Regions from separate parts of the Homo sapiens genome. Here region 1 is linked to region 2. A link means that fine-mapping ties the variant in region 2 to the expression of a gene that starts in the linked region. Tissue or cell type: whole blood. Region 2 holds a variant in brackets; the other region holds the start of a gene. All regions are shown on one strand. Distances are between the middles of the regions.

What was found. PIP is the estimated chance that this variant, and not a neighbour inherited with it, causes the effect.
Region 1: it holds the start of PLLP, and the variant in region 2 is fine-mapped to the expression of PLLP in whole blood (TOPMed, PIP above 0.99).

Annotation. Positions count from the first base shown.
Region 1 is chr16:57,283,695-57,286,194 of GRCh38, forward strand. It overlaps PLLP (plasmolipin), which reads right to left and starts at 978. Exons shown (of 4, transcript NM_015993.3): 1 at 712-978. The coding sequence starts at 846. RefSeq lists an enhancer at 56-717 and a silencer at 762-1,171.
Region 2 is chr16:57,148,921-57,151,420 of GRCh38, forward strand. No RefSeq gene overlaps it. Among named protein-coding and RNA genes, the nearest start is that of PSME3IP1, 36 kb to the right of the region's middle. RefSeq lists an enhancer at 1,013-1,802. The variant C/CA (reference allele first, on the strand shown) is at 1,401.

The DNA of each region.
Region 1 (2,500 bases), 130 kb after region 2:
AGGAGTCTTGCCCCTGGCTACCCACAAACCCCTCCCTCCAGCGATATCTCGGTCCCGTGGGGCTGGCTAAACCGGCTGAAACCTGGCGGGTCACCCAGAGAAAGCTAGAAGAGCCCGGCTCCCGCGCGGGCGCCCACAGGGTAGTGCCTGAGTGTGCGTGTTGGGGAGTCGGATGTGCCCTCTAGATTAGATGAGGAATGTTCATGGGTGCGGCCACCCGGAGCCGCTGGGAGCGGGACAGAAGGTGGTCAGAGAGTGGACTTTGCCTCAGACTGGGTTCCCTAGAGGGCTGGGGGCACTGTCCGGGCAGAAAGAGGGGTGAAAAAGAGAGAGGAGGGAAGGGAGGGCTGGGAAGGGTTGGCGGGTTGTGCGCAGTGACTGTGGCTCCGGTGGGGGCTTCTGTGGCCGCTGGTAACCACCTTGGAGGGGGCACGATGGGGCACGGGCAGTGGGCACTCTGTACACGGTGCAGGGTGCTCACGCTCGCAGCGACGGCCACGGGGTAGTGTCGTGGTGAGAGGGATGCAGGGCGATCTTGGGGGCGTCCGTGCGGGAAGCGCCCTAGGGGTACGCGCAGCGCGTCGGTGACAGTGTGAGCCCGGGTGGGGAGCGCAAGGTTCGCGAAAAATGAACGCAGCGCCGGAGTCCCTCACCCATCCTGGCCGGACCGGGAGCCCCCGGCCAACCCCGTGGGCCCGCGCGTGCTCTCACCAGCTGCAGCAGCATGAGCGCCCCGAGGCGGGAGCGCACGAAGCCCAGGTCCGGGCGCAGCGCCGACACCGAGGCTTCGGCGCCCTGCGCAGGACTGCTGGTCCGCGTGCTAACTTTCGACGGGAACTCGGCCATGGCGGCTCCGCTTGCCTCCCGAGGTCGCTACGGCCGCCGTCGCCGCCCCTCCAGCGGTGGGTGCCGGCTCCCGCGCCGCTTTTCCCCCAGGCTCCGGATCCCTGTGTGGCTCCAGGCGCTGCAGGAGGCGTCGGGGCTGGGAGCCTGGGGCGCCAGGTGCGGCCGAGATCCCGGCTCCGCCCCCGCCGCCGGGGCCGCCCCCTTAACCCTTTGCTCGCCGCCGCCGCCCCAGCCGCGACCGGTTCGTGGGCAGCCGCGTCCACTCCCCGGACCAGTAAACAACCCCGGGTCCGTGAATCGGCTCCGCCAGCACCAGCCTAGACCGCTTCGCCGGCCTCCCCCGGGGCAAGCCGCCCGCTGGGAATTTCCCGGCTCTCGCCCAGGCCGTGGTAGCTTCCGCGCCTAGGGATAAACTTGTGGTAGCTCGCGGGGGACACCGCTCTCCCAGGCGCTTTCTACGCGCTGTGCACCCTCGGCCTAGGCCCCGGCGCAGCGACTCTTGAAGAGTCCCGGGAGAAGGCTGGATGCGGTGGCTCCTGCCTCTGATCGCAGCACTTTGGGAGGCTAAGGTGAAAGGATAATTTCAGGCCAAGAGTTCGAGACCAGCCTGGGTAACACAGTGAGACGCCCCCCCTCCCCCCGTCTGTATTTTATAGAAAAGAAAGTAAAGAAGAATCCTGGGAGACCCAGCGCGGGGAAGGGGAGGGTCTGGGTAAGCGGTGGGTAAGCGGTAGAAGGGGGAGGTCCTTTTCTGCCTATTAATGCTGTTTTCACTTCTGAACATATTTTATATAACTTAGATGATCGCGGAGCCTCAGTTTCCTCGTCTGTCATATAGATACGAAGGAAACCTGCCTCACAGAGCGTTGTAGGGAATAAATGAAATATTCCCCAGAAAGCTCCTGACAGCGTGAGGGAGGAGGGGTCACTCAGAAGATGGGAGGTCATATACAGTTTCATTGCCACACATGCACCCTAAAATACTTACACACACACACACACCTCTTGAGCCTAGAGGTTTGCACAGATAGGTCATCATGCATTCATCAACCAATGTTTGCTGAACACCTACTACATGCCAGGCCCTGTGGATACAGCAGGAAACGAAGTAGACAAGGCCTTCTTGGCTCCCACATTTTTTTTTTCCCAAATACCCACTTAAAAAGAGAGCCACTTAAAAAATTGTTTTTAACTGACATGTAATATTAGGTTGGTGCAAAAGTTATACGGTTTTTGCATATAAAAGTATAGCAAAAACCGCAATTACTTTTTCGGCAACCTATAATTGTACCTAAATATGGGGTACCATGTGATGTTTTGGTACCTGTGTACGTTGTGTAAAAAAATCAAATCAAGGTACTTAGCATATCCATCACCTCATACATTTATGGCTTCTTTGGGGTGAGAACATTCAAAATCCCCACTTCTAGCTACCATATTTTGAAATATACAATATTAGGGCCAGGCGCTGTGGCTCACGCCTATAATCCCAGCACTTTGGGAGGCCAAGGCAGGCAGATCACCAGAGGTCATGAGTTTGAGACCAGCCTGGTCAACATGGCAAAACCCTGTCTCTACAAAAATACAAAAAAATTAGCCAGGCATGATGGTGGGTGCCTGTAGTCCCAGCTACACAGGAGGCTGAGACAGGAGA
Region 2 (2,500 bases):
GAACACAGGCATGCACCCCCACGCCCAGCTAATTTTTGTAGACATGGAGTTTCGCCATGTTGCCCAGGCTGCAAGCACTATCTTGGTGAACCCTTCCAATAGCTCCTGACGGTGACCATTTCAGAGATGAGGAGACAAGCAGAGAAGCGAATCAAGTCTACTAGAGGCAGAGCCAGGCCTCATACCCAAGTCTGGCTACCTCATGGCCCACACTTGCTCCACTGCATTGAATGCCTTCCCTTGGCTCTGGATGGGGTTCTTCTGCTCAAGCTGCTAATGAATTTGTCACTCTGTGCCACTGAAATTGGAAAGTCATTTGTCCCCATCTACTCTTCTGGCCAGTAATTCTTACTAGGGCCTGCTAGGATTGGGCACCGCAGCAGGTAGATTCCCACCTCTTAGTGCCTGGTAAGCTCCAGCCAGAGTTTTTCTGGTGGGAGCAAGTAAGGGATACCTTCATCCTAAGCTTCTGGTGCCGCTGCTGATTCTGTGGACACCAAGAGTCAGCTGAAGGATCTGTTAGGGACACTTCTCTCAAGAGGGCCGCAGGACTGCACAGAGCTCTGATTTGCAGACTGTCCTTTGGAAAACTCCAGTGCACTGGCCCCCAGGCCAGCAACATGGGTGGAATCCCACTCCTCCCTTACACCTTCCCGTGGGAGCGGCTTACGAGCTTGGTGAAACTAGGGAGACTGCCGTCCACTGGGCCACGTGAAGGCGAAGCCCTGGCCTTGCAGTGGGGGTCTGTCCCACATGCTCCCACTCTCAGATCACTTCCTCAGGTGTGGTGGCCGTGGTCCCCACATCCAGGCTTCATGTGGGGGCAGATCCAGCCATCTCTGCTGTCTGCCCCTTCTCTGCCTAACGGTGGGTAAGTCAAGCAGGCCCTTTATTCCTAGCTGGCTTCAGTTCACAAACTTGTCTAAACTCTTGTCTAAAGAGTTTGTCTAAACTCTTGACAAGGCCAACCAAATCACTTTTTATTTTCTTATTTTTGAGACAGAGTCTCACTCTGTCACCCAGGCTGGAGTGCAGTGGCACAATCTCAGCTCACTTAGCCTCCGCCTCCTGGGTTCAAGTGATTCTCCTGCCTCAGCCTCCCAAGTAGTTGGAACTACAGGCGCACGCCACCTTGCCTGACTAATTTTTGTATTTTTAGTAGAGATGGAATTTCACCATGTTGGTCAGGCTGTTCTCGAACTCCTGACCTCAAGTGATCCACCTGCCTCGGCCTCCCAAAGTGCTAGGATTACAGACATGAGTCACGGCGCCTGGCTCCAAATCACTTTTGTAAAAATCCAAGCTTTGGTGCTGCTACTTGGTTCCTGCACATGGATAGCAGGCTGAAAAGTGAACTTGGAAATCCAGCCAGAAAGACTCCTTTACCCTTGAATCCCTTC[C/CA]ACGGAGGCCTGGGCACTGGCATTTGTTTAGAAGTTTCACTGAAACCACAGAAAGCCAGACTTAAAGGCTCAAATGAAAATTCTGGTTCAAATGAAAATTCTGGTTCTGTCACTTAGCTATGCAACCTCAGACAAGCCATTGAGCTCCTAGGAATTCTGATTTCCTGTAAAATATAGAGAAGGGCTGCTTCACAGGACTTTTTTCCCCCAGAATGAAAGACACTAGAGTCCACAAAAATAACGCACAAATGCCCCTAACACCCTGGCATATACATAGCAAGCTCTCAGTATACACTGAATGAAAGAAACCAACACAAGCAATGATGTACATGACTATTACTAAAATAGTAATGGAAGACCAGCTTGCAGTATAAAGCACAGGTGAATGGCTGTCCCTCTGTTTTTCTGCCTCTCCCCTCTGCAAAGCTCTGATGCTGGGGCCATGTTCTGCCGTTACCACTGTGAGGCTCCCTCTCTCTCCGAACCGCTGCTCCAGCAGGTAAGGGAGCAAAATGTCAGCCCTTGCCAGTGTCACTAAAGCACAAATGTGTGACTGGTTTCTGTGTTCAACCTGTGACTACAAAAGTGTTGCCAAGATCCTAGCCTCCCACTGAGCAGAACTTGCATTCCATCCTGTGACGCCTAAGTGGGTTGGGCATGCCAGAAAACCAAGAAAATACCCAAGTCCAGATAATCTGCACTGCCATGGAGCTGTTTTTCTGGAGGGGCCTAAGATGACAGCTGAGCCATATACCCACGGCTAGGACAACCGCGCCAAGGAACCGGGTGTGCCTAAGCAATTAACATTTAGCCAAAAGGGAAGCATACAGCAAAAGCTGGTGGTTGGAGCTTTGACGACCAGATCTGACCCTTCACCCATGCCAGTGTTCTAGCTGCAACTGAGGAATGCCAGTGGAATGGATAAACCTGCATAAATCACCAATAATGGAAGCTCTGGCTATGCCACCCAGAAAAAAGGGAGGGCTGATGGTAACAGCACTGAGGGTGGCCACCATTTACTAAACACTGTGTGTCTGATACCGCACACCTAGCACCTAATCTAGGTTATCTCTATCTCCCTAGGAAATTGGTAGTGTTAT